Regions from separate parts of the Homo sapiens genome. Here all the other regions are reported to be linked to region 1. Evidence: microRNA targets listed by miRTarBase, many of them from high-throughput screens and not tested one by one. Region 1 holds a microRNA gene; each other region holds the end of a gene's coding sequence.

The links. The annotated mature microRNA hsa-miR-6756-3p reads UCCCCUUCCUCCCUGCCCAG and lies in region 1 at 1,573-1,592, opposite strand. An mRNA with a match to its seed (bases 2 to 7 or 8) in the 3' UTR can be bound and repressed. Matches are read on the target gene's strand: a 7mer-m8 pairs with bases 2 to 8, a 7mer-A1 pairs with bases 2 to 7 and ends in A, and an 8mer does both.
Region 2: the mRNA of PANK3 is a reported target of hsa-miR-6756-3p. Seed matches in the 3' UTR shown: 7mer-A1 at 1,736-1,742.
Region 3: the mRNA of TMLHE is a reported target of hsa-miR-6756-3p. Seed matches in the 3' UTR shown: 8mer at 2,796-2,803.
Region 4: the mRNA of DMRTB1 is a reported target of hsa-miR-6756-3p. The part of its 3' UTR that is shown has no 7-base or 8-base seed match.
Region 5: the mRNA of KLK2 is a reported target of hsa-miR-6756-3p. Seed matches in the 3' UTR shown: 8mer at 2,111-2,118.
Region 6: miRTarBase lists MMAB as a target of hsa-miR-6756-3p. Seed matches in the 3' UTR shown: 7mer-A1 at 2,115-2,121.

What each region holds. Positions count from the first base shown.
Region 1 is chr11:119,311,378-119,314,698 of GRCh38, forward strand. MIR6756 (microRNA 6756) reads right to left here and starts at 1,635; the gene lies at 1,573-1,635. MCAM (melanoma cell adhesion molecule) reads right to left here. Exons shown (of 16, transcript NM_006500.3): 4 at 3,302-3,321; 5 at 3,112-3,199; 6 at 1,393-1,572; 7 at 1,150-1,271; 8 at 889-1,051; 9 at 675-793; 10 at 431-572; 11 at 153-274; 12 at 1-44.
Region 2 is chr5:168,554,837-168,558,157 of GRCh38, reverse strand. It overlaps PANK3 (pantothenate kinase 3), which reads left to right. Exons shown (of 7, transcript NM_024594.4): 7 at 537-3,321. The coding sequence ends at 587. Among named protein-coding and RNA genes, the nearest start is that of MIR103B1, 4.4 kb to the left of the region's middle.
Region 3 is chrX:155,489,074-155,492,073 of GRCh38, reverse strand. It overlaps TMLHE (trimethyllysine hydroxylase, epsilon), which reads left to right. Exons shown (of 8, transcript NM_018196.4): 8 at 408-3,000. The coding sequence ends at 539. TMLHE-AS1 (TMLHE antisense RNA 1) reads right to left here. Exons shown (of 4, transcript NR_039991.1): 3 at 2,685-2,782. Among named protein-coding and RNA genes, the nearest start is that of TMLHE-AS1, 24 kb to the right of the region's middle.
Region 4 is chr1:53,466,031-53,469,309 of GRCh38, reverse strand. DMRTB1 (DMRT like family B with proline rich C-terminal 1) reads right to left here. Exons shown (of 4, transcript NM_033067.3): 4 at 1,822-2,715. The coding sequence ends at 2,648. Among named protein-coding and RNA genes, the nearest start is that of DMRTB1, 8.3 kb to the right of the region's middle. RefSeq lists an enhancer at 1-146.
Region 5 is chr19:50,877,876-50,881,194 of GRCh38, reverse strand. KLK2 (kallikrein related peptidase 2) reads right to left here. Exons shown (of 5, transcript NM_005551.5): 5 at 628-2,791. The coding sequence ends at 2,636. Among named protein-coding and RNA genes, the nearest start is that of KLK2, 6.1 kb to the right of the region's middle.
Region 6 is chr12:109,554,409-109,557,408 of GRCh38, forward strand. It overlaps MMAB (metabolism of cobalamin associated B), which reads right to left. Exons shown (of 9, transcript NM_052845.4): 9 at 1-2,728. The coding sequence ends at 2,620. Among named protein-coding and RNA genes, the nearest start is that of MMAB, 18 kb to the right of the region's middle.

The sequences.
Region 1 (3,321 bases):
AGGGTGCTCAGGACTCGCTGTGGATCTTGGTCTTGTTCACTTGCCTGCGAGGAAAGGAAGGAGGCAGCTCAGGGGATGGGGAGGATCTCTGGTCCTGGCCACAAAGCGCAGGCAGGGATTAGGAGAGTGTGGCAGATGAGACACCCGCTCACCGTGCCGTTGACGTTCCAGGAGATGGTGGGCCGGGGGTGCCCTGACGCTTCACAAGACAGATTCAACACCATATTCTCTTTCACCCACACCTTCCTCTCCTTGAATGCCATCCAAGGGGGGCCTTGGGGAGGTAGGGAGAGGTGAGGTGGCAAGCCCAGCTAGCCTGCCTCCCCCTCCGCACCAGAGCTCCCCAGGGCAGCAGGTGGCTTTTTGTCAAAGAGCTTAAAAACCACCCCACTTGGGGTGACCTGGTCTCTACCCAGAGGGAGGGCCTCACCAAAAATGGCCACGTTGACCAGCTGTGTGCGGTTCAGGCCGGGTATGCTGGGCACAGACGCCACGCAGCGATAGCCGCCTCCTGCCTCCCGTTTCAGGTCATGCAACTGAAGCACAGGCCCCCTTTCCAGCACCTGGCCTGTCTGGGATGAGAGATGGGTCAGAGGGTCTGGGAAAGAGCACATTCTTGTCACCGCCAGCCCCACCCACCCCATCAGCCCCTTGCCCCAGACCCGCCTGGGTACCTCTTCTCTCAGCCACTGGAACTCGAGGTCCTGGCTACTCTCTGCCTCACAGGTCAGGGTGAGGCTGCTGCCTTCCTGTCTCTCAGGGGCTGCGGGACTCACTCGGACGTCAGACACATCTGGGGGTACAGCAATCATGTCACCCAGGGCAGGGTGGGGCCAGTTCCCTATTGCCCCAGCCTGGTCCCCCTGTCCTGGGTCCCCAGCCCCTCACAGTTCACCAGTAGTTCCTGTGGTTCACTCAGCAGCGATATCATGGTGTCCAAGTCCAGGCCCTGACATTCATAGCGCCCACTGTGTTCCTTCCGGGCAGGCTCCAGCACCAGGACCCCGTTGTCGTTGGTTGTCTCTTCCTCTGCCTCCCTGGTGCTGGGGTTCTAGGGAGGATTGGGGAGGTGAGCAGAGTGCACCTCCCGCCACTCCACCTGGGTCTCTGCTTGCATCCCCACCTGCACCCAGCACAAAGCCCCCACACCTGCTTGCTGATGCTGAAGTGTGGTGGAGGGTTGCCATCAGCCAAACACCTGATTTCCACGCGGTCCCCTTCCTTCAGCATTCCCACGGGCTCCACTTCCAGCCACACTTTTTCTGTCGGGTCTGCATAGGCAAAGGGGGTAGCTCTTGGCCCATGAGTCAACCCTGGGCTGGATAAGGGGGAGCCAGCAGGAGTTTCCAGCAGCCCCAGCCCCAGTAAGCAGAGAGTCAGGTTAGTACTCACAGAAAACAGGGACGGTGACTTCCCTGGACTCCTTCATGTGGTTCCCACTGGGCAGCCGGTAGTTGAGCTCACAGTAAAACTGGGCATCTTTGTCTTCTTTAACCAGCTGTGCCTTCAGAATACTCTGCAAGGTGTACAAACCACTCGACTCCACAGTCTGGGACGACTGAATGTGGACCCCTGGGCAGGGAGGAAGGGGAGGAAGACTCAGCCTCAGCCCCACCTCCAGCCCCACCCTAGGGTTGTCCACTGGGGTTGGCAGGGGACCATCTAAATAGCCCCCTGTCCCCTGTAGAAGGCCAGGTACAAATGCAAGCTGGAAACCCTTCAACCCAGCACTTTTACTGCTCAGTGTCAACCCTAGAAAAACATTTTCATGTCTGCTCATATCCAAGGATGTGTGCAAAGAATGCTGCAATGATAAAAACGAGCAGCCGTCTAGATGTCCACTAAATGGGGAATGGTGAACTCGACTACCTGCTATGCGTAGTATGGAAAACTTGGCAGTAAGCAAAACGATCAGTTGATCTAAATAGACTGACCCAGAAACATTGTATAAAAGAAATTGTCTAACAATGTATACCATACACCACCACTTAGACCAGGGTTTCTCAGCACTACTGATAATTTTTTTTTTTTTTTTTTCAGACAGAGTTTCACTCTTGTTGCCCAGGCTGGAGTGCAGTGGTACAATCTCGGCTCACCGCAACCTCCACCTCCCTCCCGGCTTCAAGTGATTCTCCTGCCTCAGCCTCCTGAGTAGCTGGGATTACAGACATGCGCCACCACGCCCGGCTACTTTTGTATTTTCAGTAGAGATGGGGTTTCTCCGTGTTGGACAGGCTGGTCTTGAACTCCCGACCTCAGGTGATCCGCCCACCTTGGCCTCCAAAAGTGCTGGGATTACAGGCGTGAGCCCAGCCAGCACTACTGATGTTTTAGGCCACGTTGATTCTTTATTGTGGGGGCTGTCCTGTGCCCTATAGGATGTTAGCAACATCCTTGGTCTCTCTACCTACTAGATGGCAGTAGCACCCCCTCTATGTGTGACAACCAAAAATATCTCCAGACATTGCCAAGTATCTCCTAGGAGGAGGGGGTACAAAATCACCCCTGGTTAAGAATGACTGATTTAGATAATAAAACACAGAAGCCTATATCATTCTAGAAATATTTCTATATATGAGCAAATACATAGAAATAGGCTTGAAAGAACACACCCTGATAGCAGAGATTATTTCTGGGAGGGGGGGTCTCAGGCAAGAAGAAACTTCTAGATTTTTTGTCAGTTTAAATTCTCATGAAAATATTTTCAAGTACCATTTGTATAATTTTTTTAAGTTAAAAGCTTAATGAAAATATAAGGCAGTTCCTGTGTAGTACCATAGGGACAGCTCTTTTTAAGAGATGGGGTCTCGCTCTGTCACCCAGGCCGGAGTGTGGTGGTGCAATCCTAGCTCACTGCAGCCTTCATTTCCTGGGCTCATATGATCCTCCTGCCTCAGCCTCCCAAGTATCTGGGACCACAGGCACACACCACCATGCCTGGCTAATTTTTTTATTTTCTGTAGAGACAGGGTCACCCTATGTTGTCCAAGGTGGTCCTGAACTCCTCACCTCCAGAGATCCTCCTGCCTTGGCCTCCCAAAGCACCGAGATTACAGGTGTGAGCTACCACACCTGGCCCAAGGGTGGCTTTTGGGAGAAAGGGCTACTCACGGTTCTTCTCCTCCTTCAGAGGCCGGCCATTCTTGTACCAGATGACTTGAGGAATGGGGTACCCGTTCCTCCCTACACAGGTAGCGACCTAAAGAGCACAGGGTGTGAGTCTCCCTGCCTCCGAGCCCCCTTCAAGCCCCATCTCAGCGGCTGCGCACCAGCTGCCCAGCCCACCTGCCACACATCTCACCTCCTCAGGCTCCTTACTGT
Region 2 (3,321 bases), not on the chromosome of region 1:
AAAAGCTTCCATGTCTCATTGTCACTGCTCACACAATACAAATCAGAATGGTGTGCCCTTGTGCAATTCCACATGGCATGCAGTGAGAGTGTCAGGCACAGCCACAGGAAGTTAGTTTGTTTTATTAAGTAAAGGGGAGAGGGTGCAGAATTGCTGTTACAGTCCTGGAAGCTTTAGTGTCTAAAGGCCACACTTTTAGAATACGTATTTCAGTGTGAGCCTATAGTCCCAGCTATTCAAGAGGCTGAGATGGGAGGACCATGTGAGCCCAGGAATTCAAGGCCAGCCTGGGCAAAATAGTGAGACCATGTCTCTAAAAATAATAATAATAAATAAAAATACATATTTCAAAGGTGTGTAGACATCAAGAATACAGATTCAGAAAATTTTTTATAATAGCTAACAACGCAGAAATTGGTAGGTTTCCAAATATTATTAAACAAATAGATTGTGCATAGTTGTGTGTTCTCAAGTGGTTAATATTATATGCTAACTTAAAAGCTGTACTACATAACAGTTATTTTTAAATTACACAGGGTTACTTTGGAGCAGTTGGTGCACTTCTTGGGCTGCCAAATTTCAGCTAAAGCATCAGGTCTCTCTCTCTGCTAATAAATGTCATCCAAGAGGAACTAAAACCAGAGGCATTATTACTGCATTGTTTGTCACTGGGAACCAAAGGATAAAAGAGTAGCATAAGCTGCTGAATGTTGCCATATTAAAGGAGAGAACTTGGTAACGTGAAGTATTTCTCATTGAAATGCTTTCCCTTTTGTATATAGCCAGTGTTAAATCCTTAAATGCAATACAGCCTCTGATTATTGAGCTTCCTCTTAAAAAGATTTTTTTATTTTATGTAGCCAACATTGCAGTACTGTATGCTCAAACACAAATCTTAAAGTATCGGAACTGTTTAGCTTATGAAAATAATCGACTCTGAATATTTGTTACAAGTCTGTTTTATGTGTTTTGATTACTAGTGAGCAGAAAATAACATACCCTGTATTCAAAATTACTGAAATGGCAATCAAAGATGATCATTTTTATGTGATTTTAGAAATGTTAAGGCAATACTACTAATTATTGTAGGTTTTTTTAACGTATCACCCAAAGCATGTATGTGATCTTTCCCCATTAGTATCTTTTTCTCAAATGCCATAATTAACTGAAATACTATTATTAAATTTTCATGAGAATTCTAAAATGAATCCTGGGAAATGCACGTTTGGTGATGTTGCACTTTCTGTATTTTACAGGAATTAGTCAATACATGTTGAAATGTTTAACATTTTAAGATTGGAGGCTTAATTACTGGGAGTCTGTCTAATGAAGTCCTGGGACTATTGTAATGGAATATGATTTGAGTTCACTGTGCTCTTTTTGTTTGTTTGTTTTGGTCATATATACATTCAGAACTTTTATTTTAAAACAACCACAATAACATTAATAATAGAAAATTCATCTGTAAATATTCACAGTCTAGTCACTGAAAAATGGGAAAACCTCTACCATGCCTTATTATTACCCTTTGCTGTTTGAGGAGCCAGAAATAGAGGTGCAGTTAGAGGACGGTCACTTTTTCCAACAAAACCCACTCCATAGCCATGTGGATTTTTATCCAAAGGCTCAACAACCAGAGGGAATGGTGAGACCTGATAACTAAAATACTGTTATTGGCAAGGGTTTGAAATGTGTAAGAACCTAGGAGGGAAAGGAAGATTGAGCAACATAGGAAAAGGGGAAGAGAGGCTGAGTGTCACCAAGGTCCAAACTCCATTTATAAAAATACTGCAAAACCAGGAGTTGATGGTAGAAATGCATATGATCCATGGCAGGAGTAAATCTCTCCACCTCCTCTAACTCTCTGAAAACTCTAGAGTTGGAGCAAGTCTTCCATTTGCTTCTTATCCCCTTAAAAGAATGCCTTCCACTTCCCAACAGCCCCCATCAAGGGACCCCAAGAGGCCACCATGCTCTTATCTCGCACTTTCTTTCCTATTCCCCTTGCCTGAATCTGGAGTGGGGTTGAGCCCTCTGCCTTCAACCTTAAGATTTAGGAAGTTCTTTCCCCAACTGTCTAACTTGGAAAGGTAGATGAGTCTGAATTTTGAAGTAACGAATGCAAATTCCACTCAGCAGAGGCAATGTTATTTATGTACATAGGGATAGTGGAATGAGTTTTAATAGATTCTGTCCAAAAGGGGTTTGTTCCTCTTATTTCCTCTATGTAGGAAGTTGTGTCTTAGGCAACTTTATCAGTATCAATGGAAAAATGATAGGCACTACAATGAAATGGCAGGATGCCAATATGAGATATTTCAGGAATAATAAGAAATACAGTTTGTTTGTATAAAATAAACTATCTCAAGAAAGTTTTCAACGACAGTGATAGTGTTCATTTGTAAGAGAGAGTTCTAGAACTTCGATGTCCAGTGCAGTAGCCACTACCCATATGTAGCTGTTGAGCATTTGAAATATGGTTAGTCCAAATTGAGATGTGCTCTAAAGGACAATAAAAGGTTAAATATCTCCTAATTTTTTGTATTGATTACATGTTGAAATGTTAACATTGGAAATATTGGGTTAAAGAAAAATACACAATTAAAATGAATCTTGGCCAGGCGCAGTGGCTCACGCCTCTAATCCCAGCACTTTGAGAGGCCAGGGTGGGCAGGTCACCTGAGGTCAGGAGTTCGAGACCAGCCTGGCCAGTGTGGCAAAACCCTGCCTACTAAAAATACAAAAATTAGCCAGGCATGGTGGTGCGCACCTGTAGTCCCAGCTACTTGGGAGGCTGAGGCAGGAGAATTGCTTGAACCCAGGAGGAGGAGGCTGCAGTGAGCTGAGATTGTGCCACTGCACTCCAGCCTGGGCGACAGAGTGAGACTCTGTCTCAAAAAAAAGAATCATCTGTTTCCAATTATTTTTAAATGTGCTTACTAGAAAAGATAAAATCACACATGGTTTACATTTTATTTCTATTAAGACAGCACCGTTAAGAACATAGAGCTTTGAGGAATTGTGGTATTAGAACCAAATCTATTTACCACAGTGAGCTTACAGGGAGTTACTCGAGATCTTAATAAAAAATTATAATCTTTGGCAGCCTTCATTATGATTTTGTGTTCTTATTATTCCAGTACCTCTAGATTACATATGGGAAAAGCTAAAGAGCCACAGTGGTGAGATGGTTGCTCACTCTAGCAGGTAATTTCAGTTTGAAAGGATAAAATATATGAATCATAGTTCACATTAACCAAAGTACAGTGATGAAATAACTTAGACTCTGACCATTCCATTTTTTCTTAAAGATTGCCCTAA
Region 3 (3,000 bases), not on the chromosome of region 1:
CCTCTGGATGAAAAATACCTTCAGCTTAGCATAAAATGTCATGAGATAATTTAACCCTTTGAGAAAGGGTAGAATAAGAATTAAAGAAAAAGAAAAAGAAACAAACCAATTATCTGATTTACTTTGATAAGAGAACAATTACTTGAGAAACAGAAGCTCCTCCAGTGCAGGGCCCATTACCTACTGTTGCCTCTGTAACTTCCATTTAGCCTACTACAGGGCTATACACATCTTAGTTTCCAAAAGTTTGTTTAATTTCAAAAGAAAAATATCTCATTTAATGCAACCAGAAAACAACCTAAAGGTTATCTTTTAAATGATCTCTTCTGACTTAGGGTTCCTTTGGTCTGTCCTTCTTCTGACAGTGTTTTCTCTCTCTTTTTTTTTTTTTTTTGGCCCATTCACAGGTCCTATTTATAGACAACTGGCGTGTCCTACATGGCAGGGAATGCTTCACTGGCTACCGCCAACTGTGTGGCTGCTATTTAACAAGAGATGATGTATTAAACACTGCTCGCCTCTTGGGGCTTCAGGCTTAAAATTGACAGCATCTGGATTATGAATACACCTGGCACCCTGGCTACCAGAATTTCATATGGGCAGAATAATATTGTGTCAAACTCTACTTCAGATTGTCTCCTTATCCCATCCCACAAAACAGAATCTGTCCGTTTCTCTAGTAAGGGAGACTTGTTGGAGAGGCGGGACTCTGAGTTATCTAATGTCAGACATCTAGTGGGGCAGCTCTCTTCCTCATGTTATAACATGGATCCACTTGTTTGATTTAAACCTTTTAATATAATTTTGGTCAGTCTCCTTCAGAAATATAATCTCCATATTGATAGGAAAGCAATAATTGCCATGAGGTAACGATTTTTTTCCCAAGTAGATCAGTTAGAAAGAAATGCATTCTAGAAATAACAAAAATCCTGATAAAGCAACAATTTGCAAAATGTTTGGTCTTAGGACACCTTAACACTCTTAAAAGTTATTGAAGGCCCCAAGGAGTTCTTGGGTGTGGGTTCTATCTATTGATACTAATTATTTTAGGTATTAAGACTGAGAAATATTTAAAGCTCAAGAAGAACACAGAAGCACACATCCCTCAGCTATGAGAGAGATGACATAACCATATGTCATGTAGCCTCTGGAAAAGTCCTCTGTATCCTCATGAGATAACGAGAGGGGGAAAAAAAGCTACTACTGCCTTTGTAACTTCCACTTAGCCTACTACAGGGCTATGCACATCTTAGTTTCCAAAAGTCTGCTTAATTTCAAAAGAAAAATGCCTAATTGAATGTAACTCATCTTGGTGTTATTATACAAAATAATTTTTAATCTGCAGACCCACGAAAAGGGTCTCAGGGACTCCTCCAGGGGTCTTCAGACCATACTTTGAGAACCCATGGGCTAGCGACTACCTTGAGACAGTCCTTTACCTAGGCCTGTGGATTAAAGGGTTTAGCTGAAACCCTAGATTCTTCTCTGTAGTCTAATAGAACTCCAAACATTGTAAGAATTGCTTGGTAGCATAAGCTCAGGGATAAGGTGGGAATTGAGTTCAAATATAGTGTTTTATCTTCCACACAAATCATCTCTATAGGAGTTAAATTAGGAAGTCACAACAGCGCCTGTTGAACAAACTCATCAGTGTGGTAATCCTATGAGGGATAATTGCAGAAAGGTTTTAGAGACTTGTGAGGTTCCATATGATAATTCTTTACACCTCCCCCCCCAAGAGAAAGTACACAGGGCTATTCTGTAATATTGTTCAGGGAAATCAGCATGATAGATGCTGTGCCTCCAGAGAGTTCTCTGGAGATTACTACCCAAATGTGTATTTTGGCAATTTGGTGGTATTTAGGATGTAATATGTTTTCCTCCATTTCTGCTAATTTTCTCTCTCTCTCTCTCATAACATACTATACATGCTAATTGCCAAGATTTGAATGAGTCAAATTTAGTAGCTTGCTGCTTTTATTTTTTAAATGGCTTCTTTTACGTATTGGCGGGGGCGGGTGGGGGGCAGGGTATGAGGCTTCTTTTCCCTCAGCTTTCATTGAAAGTGAAGCTGTACAATAACCACATTGACCACTGTAGAATGATGAAAGAGAATATAGGCTAGGATGCACACAAGAGGGGGGAAAAGGCATTATTAGTGAAGATAGGAGTTACAAAGCAAAGCAAAGTCAGTATTCAGATAGAGAATAGAGCCTAATCTGATGTTTGCAGGGAGTTCCTAGATCACATTTGGCAATTTACACATTATTTTATTGACCTATCCAGTGCTCCAAAATGTGTTCCAAAATATTTTGGCATTTTATTTGTACTACATAGGAATCTTTAGGGGAGTCCCTGAAATTTGTTTTCCTCTTAGGTCAAAGGACTGATAATTAACTTTGGTTCTTAAGGAGTATGCCCTTTAGCAATAAGAACAGCAATAACATTTTACCCTGCAGTTTTTTCTCTATACCTACTATTATGCACTCCTAAAATATGTCATCATTAGTCTTCATGAGGATGTTTACCATTTCTGAAGTTTTGCGTAAATTAGCCTTGAAGATTACACTATAACTGAGGTCATCAGCATTGACTTATGGCCAGCAAAGGACATGCTCATGGCCCTGGAGAGATGAGGACACAAAACAAATCAATTTCCCCACTTACTGAAGGACTCCCCTTACCTTCTGTCTCTCCTGAGACCTTGACTCATTAATTATTTTACTCTCCTTTTTGGAAATTTGCAACCGGTCCTTCTCAACAATGTGCTCCCTTTAGTACACTGAAGAAAAAGAGAAGGGGATTATTTGAGTCCTGATCACGATGCATTGAAAACTTCCTATGTGAGATGTTTCTGTTTTTATATCTCTTCCAGGTGTCCCTGAGTATATAAGCATGGGTCTATGTCTACCAAGCTCACTGTAGAGTCACTTTTACCTTTTGCTATGGTGGAATGGGATCTGTAGGGTCAGGAACACAGCACCTAACACAGTGCCTTAT
Region 4 (3,279 bases), not on the chromosome of region 1:
TCTCCAAAGACCAAAGCCTCCTATCTCCCCACAGGCTAACTAAACAACCCATTTCCTTGCATTGGTCTGGAATAGTTGTGGTGTCCATGTGGCCACAGAGACTGTTTCATACTTCTGCGTGTGTGCTGACCAGAAACAGGAAAGCAGCTTTATTTGAGTAGTGCAACTTGGTTGGAAAATCTTTCAAAATGTGGAGTCTAAGATAAAACTTCAAGTGTTATGAAAAAGTAAGGTTACCAGCCAGGTGCGGTGGCTCACGCCTGTAATCCCAACACTTTCGGAGGCCGAGGCGGGCAGATCACAAGGTCAAGAGATCGAGACCATCCTGGCTAACATGGTGAAACCCTGTCTCTACTAAAAATACAAAAAAATAAATAAATAAAATAAAAATTAGCCGGACGTGGTGGTGGGCGCCTATAGTCCCAGCTACTCAGGAGGCTGAAGCAGGAGAATGGCGTGAATCCGGGAGGCGGAGCTTGCAGTGAGCCGAGATCGCACCACTGCACTCCAGCCTGGGCGACAGGGCGAGACTCCGTCTCAAAAAAAAAAAAGAAAAAAAGAAAAAGAAAAAGTAAGGTTACCAATCCAGCCCCACCCTGCTGTACTGGCAGGTCAGGGGTTCAGTTAGGGCATGGTGATTGATGTCAAGTGCAACCAAAAGGCATGTCTTCTCCCACCCTCTCAGGGTCCTGCAGCACTGTGGTCCCCAAGGGGAAGACCAGCACTGGGGTAAGTGATAGCTTCAGCCCCCAAGCCAGGGTAGTCCCAAATCACCGCATCATCCTGTCCAGGCTGACACCAGTGCTGACCTGCAGACCTCAGGCCTCAGCATGCGTGGTCTGCCCTGCTGAAAACACTCTTATGTCTGTATAGCAGTAACTGAAAAGTTCTTGTGACAGTGCCTGCCTCCAGTGCCTTCCAACAAAGCCCAGGCCCTAGGCCCCAGCCACCACACTGACGTAAGAGAATAGTTAGGGTATCACTTCTCAATGATCCCCCCACTACCTATCCCAGGACTTAGGAGGATGCCTGGACACCTCTGCCCACAGGCAAAAAAGGAAGTAAAGTTGACCTGTTCTCTTGGGTGCCAGCCCTTCCCTGGACAGAGAACAGGACACTGCCCTGACCATGGAATCCTTCACACCAGGTCCCCATCCTCCTCTGCATCCTTACTGGGAGTACTCATCTCTTTCTTCTCTGCCTAACTCATTATTGCCCCTTATGTTGTGGTTGAGGCCCTGACTCCTGCAGAAGGCTTTCTCTGACCACTCCCACAGCCTCCCTACCTCTCTGTTCTAGTATGAATCCCCTAAGACTCTCTGTCTCTCCCACTAGATGTCATGTTCCTCATGGGCAGAGCTGGGAACTGTCAAGTTCTGAATCTAGTAGAAACACAGGATGTTTTCTAAATGAAGGTATAAATGCAACCAATGGAAGAAGCCGAGGACCCTAAAACAGAATTGGTTCAAGTTCTGTTTTTTTAAATGCATGTTCCTATGCAGGGACTATGGAAGGAGCTGGAGGAAGGAAACTAAGACATCTTTACATTTTGTGTGTCTACATCAGATTTCCTTAAAAGGTCTCCATTGCTTAAAATAACAACAGTAATAATAAAGAAGTCTACTAGCCTGGCCCAATCCCCTCACTTGATAAAGAAAGGGGAGGTAGAACAGGGAGGGCAGGAACTAAAAATAGGAACTAAGCAAGTGCAGACAAGGCCAGCCACAGGCCACAAACCAAGGCCCCCAATCTCCCCAACTCAGGCTCCTGCCAACCCTACCTTCCACCAGGATCAAAGGGAGAATAAGCCTTCCACAAGGATTTCCATTGCTCATTTTATTTCAATAGCCAACTGTCCTCACAGAAGAAACTGTTCATGTCACAGGTGATCAGAAGCACCATTCTATTCCCTAGGGACTGCATCAGTGCTTATGAACAGCCTACTTTTTAAAGTTGGCAATCACTATAAAAACATCAAATAGTCAAACTAATAAATTTTTTAAAACCAGTGCCCATAATGGCTGAAACTTTATGGAGGGGGAATGAAGTAGCCCCAGCAGCCAGGATGCTTGCTAGTAAAACCCCTTAGAGGAGGGGCAAGGGGCTGTGGCCAGGAAGATGTGGGGGACAGAGCAGCAAGGCAGGATGCTGCAGAACCTGCTGTCAACGACCCTGGTCCTGGCTGCTGGCTCCAGCCACCTGGATGAACTGGAATCTTGATGTCTGTGGTGCCCCCAGCAACCTGGAGGACCAGGCAAAGGCAGCAGAAGGCTGAAATAGATGGTGCCTCCTGTCCTAGAGTGGGGCCTGAGGAAATCAAATACTGCCTCTGGGGCTTGTTCCAATAAATGGTAGTGTAACCCAAGGACAGTTAAATTCATTCCTAAATGGGAGCTTCTCCCAGCGCCCACTCCTCAGAGCCCTGGCCCTCCCCTGGTAATAGCTTCCTCCACACTCTTCTTCAACTGTACAGCGCAGGATTGAAACTTAGAAATTGCTCTCCTTCCTCCTATCTTAAACTGGGAATCAGTTGCCATCTATGCTATCAACCTCCTTCCTCCCTACATATCACTGAATGAAGACAAGAAAACTGTTGCTGTTGCCCCCCAGTGCCCCACTCTGCTGGCCAGGAGGGCGGGCCTGGGGCCTAGTCGGACTGCTCCTGAGACGATGGCTGGCTGGGCTCACCCGACAGTACCTCTGCATCCTGGTCATCTGTGAAGGACAAAGAAGGTAGCTGGATTTAGAAAGAGCGAAAATTACAACTACCTATTTGCAGATGAAGATTTTCTTTTTTCTTATTTTATTTTAATTTTTTTGAGACAGAGTCTCGCTCTGTCACCCAGGCTGGAGTGCAGTGGTGTAATCTCAGCTCACCGCAACCTCCACCTCCCAGGTTCAAGCAATTCTCCTGCCTCGGCCTCCTGAGTAGCTGGGATTACAGGCACCCGCCAACATGCCCAGTTAATTTTTGTATTTTTAGTAGAGACAGGGTTGCCCCATGTTGGCCAGGCTGGTCTTGAACTCCTGACCTCAGGTGATCCACCCACCTCACCCTCCCCAAAGTGCTGGGATCACAGGTGTGAGTCACTGTGCCCAGCCCAGATACAGATTTTCCATAAGCCTTTCTCATCATTCCCAGCCCTAGGGGAGAATGTATTTTCTTTAACTTGTTAGGCGCCAGGAGCCTGGAATCCTAGCCTTGGCCATGTGATTCAGATTCAAGTTCCAGCTCTTGCTCTGCTCGTCACAAGCTGGGAGGAATTAGCAAGATACTCC
Region 5 (3,319 bases), not on the chromosome of region 1:
ATCCCAGCTACTGGGGAGGCTGAAGCAGGAGAATCACTTGAACTGGGAGGCAGGGGTTGCAGTGAGCCGAGACTGAGCCATTGCACTCCAGCCTGGGCGATAAGAGTGAAACTCTGCGAAAAAAAAAAAAAAAAAAAAAACCTGCCTTCAGTGTTTAGTCATGTGTTTCCTCCTTTCCTATTTTTCTCTCTTCCTGAGTCTTTAGTGTTCAGTATCTGCACTGCCAGCACTCACATCATTCAGTATTTCTTTGACATTTTTCTTCAATCTAGTCTAAAATGTCACTATTGCGTTCTTCACCTCTACTCAATTCTATTAATCCATTTTTTTTACTTTTTCCAATTATCATATTTTTCCCACCTAATATTTCCTACCTTTTTCTCATATTTTATGTATGTTAGTCTTGCTCAATATTCCTAATATGTTCTCTTATTTTTCAGCATGCTTATTAACTTCTAATTCAGTATAAAATCAATCAGGTTTCTTTCAAACAATTCATCATTGCAGAGATAACTCCATGGGTTACTCAATCACAAAACCAAACCAGTCCCACAGGTGCATTCACTATCCCCCGTCTTTCCCTGACCCCCTGTACATTACTAAATGTCCACTTACAATTACACAGTATAAGGTCTGAAAACAAGATTCAGTTTTATTTGCTGCCCCAGTATCTGTAACCAGGAGTGCCACAAAATCTTGCCAGATATGTCCCACACCCACTGGGAAAGGCTCCCACCTGGCTACTTCCTCTATCAGCTGGGTCAGCTGCATTCCACAAGGTTCTCAGCCTAATGAGTTTCACTACCTGCCAGTCTCAAAACTTAGTAAAGCAAGACCATGACATTCCCCCACGGAAATCAGAGTTTGCCCCACCGTCTTGTTACTATAAAGCCTGCCTCTAACAGTCCTTGCTTCTTCACACCAATCCCGAGCGCATCCCCCATGTCATCCTGCATGGTGTGCAGCGTCCTCCTGCTCTGGGCTGTGAATCTCTATGGCTAAGAAACTGTTGATCTCATATCTCCGGTGCTATGTGTGGGGTGTTCAACCATCTTCATAACCCCAGGGTGGTAATCCCTCCCTCACCAATGGTGTGAAAAGAAGGCAAATAAAACAATGATTGAATGCTCTTTGGGCTCAGTATCATTCCTCAATGTGCCCCTATTTCTGGATTCTTCTTTGTAGGGATAGCCCCATAGACCACCTGATCACAAGACCAAACCAAATCCCCAGGGGGGCTTCCTCATCCTCTCCCTTTCCCTCATCCCCTGTACAATAAAAGGTTGACTCAGCAGCCCTGCACTGCTCAAAGCCTGTACATCCCAAGTAAAGGGCTCACCCTTGAATAACTCCTGGGAGATGACATTTGATTCCTTGGCATGTTCTGCCCAAGTGCCTTGATATACTTGGGGCCTTGGGCCATGCCAGACCCTTCATGCTAAAGATGGGATTTGTGATGAATCCCTGTTTTTGTACATCTGGGACTCTGGACCATGCTGTATCTGTTTGAACTCTAGGGAACCTCAGGTCTGAGGACTTCAGGTCAATTATTCAAGTACTCCATACTCGTCCTACAGACCCCCAGTAAAAACCCTGGACACTAAGGATCAGGTGAGCTTCCTCAGTTGGAATTACTTTGTACATATTATCATACATCCTTGCAGGGAGAATTATATGCTGTCCGTAAGTCTCCACTTGGAGAGAATAACTGTCAGATATGCCCCCCATCCAAAGGGAAAGGCCCCCACCTGGCTAGTTCCTCTATCAGCTGGATCAGCTACACTCCACAAGGTCCTCAGCCTAATAGGTTTGACTTCCTGCCAGTCTGAAAACTTAGTAAAGCCAAGTTGCCAGTCTTCGTAACTGCAAGTTTTCCTCTGTTTTCTCCACACTCTAATCTATACATCTGTTTTGTTTGCTGATTTCAGTATGTATCCTATCAATGTAACAAACCATAATAAACCACAGCATGATAGCTCTTTATTTCTGTAAGTCCTGCTAGGAAATCATCAAATCTGACGGTGGTTTGGGGGACCTGAACAAACCTCCTGTAATTAATCAGCTTTCAGTTTCTCCCCCTAGTCCCTCCTTCAACAACATAGGAGGATCCTCCCCTTCTTTCTGCTCACGGCCTTATCTAGGCTTCCCAGTGCCCCCAGGACAGCGTGGGCTATGTTTACAGCGTCATCCTTGCTGTGTGTGTGCCTCATGCATTGTGGCTCCAGCTTATCCTCAGTGATCTGTAGAGAGTGTCCACCTTGTGTCACTGTCCACTCTTCCAGGGTGGGCCCCACCCCTCCCATCTCTGCACCCCACAAACAACATGGTCACCCACGTCTTTGTGTGTGTCCTCACTGAAACTGAGCGAGAAGTCTTCAGAGACAGCCAGTGTTCCGAAGGAGAGGACGAAATTATACCCATTTCAGAAACATTGGCATACACCTGTGTCTGCCCATTCCTTTTCCTAGCAGCCCTGGACTCCACACCAGAAAGCACAGGTCAGTAGGACTCAGGAGGCTCGAGCTTCGGCCAGGTGAGTTCCAAGCTTCAGGTGTCCAGCATCCAGAAAGGCCAAGTGATGCCAGAACGTGAGGTGGACTTAAATTTACTAGAGGTAGGGGTGGGACAGGGGCACTCAGGGGTTGGCTGCGATGGTGTCCTTGATCCACTTCCGGTAATGCACCACCTTGGTGTACACAGCAGGCTTTTCAGGCAGGGCACATGGCTCAGGGCCCCATGATGTGATACCTTGAAGCACACCATTACAGACAAGTGGACCCCCAGAATCACCCTAAGGGTAAAGGAGGAGAGACACAGTGAGAAAGATTGGCCCCAATAACTGCCTAGGCAACTCCATCTCTCAGAACCGCGCAGGCAGATGACTGAGAGCAATTCCCAGCTCTCAGGAACAGACAGAAATGTCTCCAGAACCCACTCCCACAAGAATATGGGCAGGGAGTCCAACAGAGGGAACAAGGCTCCAGTCTTGGCCTATGGGGAGGGGACTTCAGGGTCCAGCTCCTGCACAAGGGGCAAGGTCCAGGAGGACAGTCCCTGCAGACAGGTCAGCAGGATGAGGGCCGGGACCATCTGCAGGATGCTGCCCCCACAGGCACATCGCAGAGGCCACCTCTTCAGGACTACTCTCTGACTAGATGTCCCCTCTCCAGGGCATTGGGGAGCCATGGAGGGCCGTGGGCAGGGCTGGGTATGGTCAGTTCAGTGATCAGAATGACCCACTGAGGCCAGATGGAGGATGGAGTGGAGGGGAGAGACTGAGGGCCAGGAGACTGTGAGGGAGGCTGGGTGAGGGCCCAGG
Region 6 (3,000 bases), not on the chromosome of region 1:
TTTTCATGGGTGCAAAATGTAAGGAAGTGCCCACAAACTCAGGGATCGAGTAGTATTTGTGTGCAATATTTTCCAAAATCAAATTATGAAAAAAATCTACGATAAGCAAGGGATCACGACTTTAAATAAAAACAGGCTGCTGTTTGTTTCAAAACCCCGTGTTCCCGTGCAATGGGACTGATTGTTTCTGAGAGTTGCCAGTGGTGTGCAAACACTGGGGCAGCGGGGGCTTCGCAGTCACATTTCCTGACTGTAGGGCTTTCATTAACTTTTCCCACCTGGTTCAAAATATGGGAGGACATTTGCTCAGTGTACAGAGGGGTACACATCTTTTCTTTTGCCTCGGGCTCTTGATAGAGCTTTTGAAAGGCACTGCAGAAGAGCAAATGTTTTAAACACCCCATCCTTCCAGCCCCCAAAGCAAGCTTTCTCCATTTTTCCCAGGTTGGTAGCACAGGAGAGAAACACCTGCTGAGTGGTGGCATCTGCCCTGCACCCAGGTGGTTTCTCAGAGAAGTGTTTGCTGGTGAACCGGGAGACAGATACAGAGGCGGGGGTCTGAGAACGCGACTGTTAACATCCAGGCTGTGACACCCGGTCCTGGAAGGACAGGACTTGGCAACAGGTGAACGGCCTTGTTTCAAAGATTGTCACTTTAGGATGTTGTATTTACTCAAAAAGCTTTCCTTATCCTTTGGAGGCTGTGCTTTCCCATGGCTAGGCATGCAGGGCTGCTGTGTTATTTTATATATATATATATATTCCAGGAAGATTTTGAGATTTTGAGGTGTAGACAGAATTGAGTGATTCGCTGCAAGCTCTTTGAACATACTCCCTGACCGAGCCTTAGTGATTGCGTTTTCAGGGTTTTTTTTTTTTTTTTTTTTTTTTTGTGACGGAGTCTCACTCTATCAGCCAGGCTGGAGTGTCGTGTCACGATCTTGGCTCACTGCAGCCTCTGCCTCGTAGGTTCAAGTGATTCTCCTGCCTCAGCCTCCTGAATAGCTGGGATTACAGGCACCCGCCACCATGCCCAGCTAATTTTTTTTTTTTTTTTTTTTTTTTAGCAGAAATGGGGTTTTACCATGTTGACCAGGCTGGTCTCAAACTCCTGACCTCAGGTGATCTGCCTGCCTCGGCCTCCCAAAGTCCGTTTTCAGCTCTGTTTTGCAAACACTGAGCACCGACTCCGTACCAGACCTGGTAGTGACGATGGGGGCAGGGAGGCACGGAACAAAGCCACCTCCTGGAAGGCATTCACACACTCCTGGTCATCTGCACCTCACCCACCCTGCCCAAGGCTCAAGAGGGCCATCACAGCCTGTCAGCAATGAAAGGACCCAGAAGACACAAGTGAATATACCTGGCCCTCCTGCAAACTTTGCAGGCCAGGTGGTAAGAATGAAGGCAAAAATATGCACGTGACTAAGAAGGTAATGTTTGCTGACTTGCCAGCAAGAAAGATGGCCGGAAAGACCAGCTGTCCCGAGCCTAGCGCGGTGGCCCATGCTAAGCAGCCACTCAGTCAATATGTGATGGCTGAATGGAGTTCGCCAGGCATTTCAGCCCTGAAACTGGACAAGAGCCTGCCCTTCCAAAGTCATTTCCTGCAATTAGCAGCCTGCAGTCTTTAGGTTCTTGGGGCTGCCTCTTCTGCCCTTCATAAATATTGCCTTTCCCAAGGACACTGCTGGCACTGGCAGTGTCGTTTCATAGCAGGAGGGAGCAGCAGTGACAACTGAAATAAATACAGCCGTGGCACCGATCTCAGAGGCATAAGCCAGCCAAGTGCAACATCGGAGAAATCAGTCTGGTGGATGTCAGCCTTGCTGGAAACTGACAACCTCATTTTCTCAAGCTGAAGATGCTGCACCGCAGACCCTTGACTCAGTCCAACCAGACAGGGAATGTTCACCTTCAAGTGGTAGTGTTGTTCTCATCAGCATCTCCATCCCTTTCAGAGGGGGTCCTCTAAGCTGCACCCCCATCACACACACTTCAATCTAAGCCAGGAGTTTCTGAGCCTCGCCTGTCAATCTGCAGCTATCCTTCCCCCACACTTTGGCGGTGATGGGTGGCTCAGAGGTGACTAAACTTCCAAATCTTGTCCGCCTTCCCCTTTACAAATGTGACATTTAAAGCACCTTTGGCACAGGTAAATCACAATTACATTTTCAAGGGCCTCTGGTCCCATTCCAAATCTGTGAACAACCTGAGCTGGCAGTGGGAGGGCTCTCTCTCACACACACACACACACACACACACACACACACACACACACACACGGCTCCAGCCTTTCCAACTTTTATTCCTTTTCCGCACAGCTCCTTCTCATTGCAGCAATCACTTTACCTGTCTTTCCTGCAATGCCAATTCATTCCCACATCCCTCCAAGACCCAGGAGAGCTTGGGGAAGCAGGGTCAGGGACAGAATCCCCAAAGGGTCACAGTCCCTTGAGGAAGGTGGCAAGAGGTGTAGATCAAAGCTGAGCTGGGACAAAAGGCTGCTTTGAGCCTCTCTGGGTGAGCTCTTCAGGAACCAGGACCCCAGAAGGGCAAGCTCCTCTCTCCACGGCCATCGCCATGGAGGGATCCTCCAAGCTCCCACTTTCTGTGATTTCAGAGTCCCTCAGACTCGGCCGATGGGTCATTTTTCATGTATATTTTCTCTTGATTCCCCTCCTTCATGGCTGCATATCTGGCTAGCGTGAAGAGATAGTCACTGAGTCTGGAGGGGCAGAGAGAGAGAAGCAAACAGAATGGTTTGAAATGAGAGATCAACGCTAACTGGGTCTTCCCATATCCGCCTACAAGGAGGAGATATAAATGACGCACTCTGGGCACATTGTGCAGGGAGGGCGGGGGCCCAGCCATCTTGCACTTAATGGATGGCACACGAGGCCAGCTGCTGTGAATGCCAAGGACTCTACTCCAGTGTCAAGGCTGGGGCCATTCCTGCAGGATGAGGCCATTGCCCCGGCCCTACCCCATGGGGCAGAT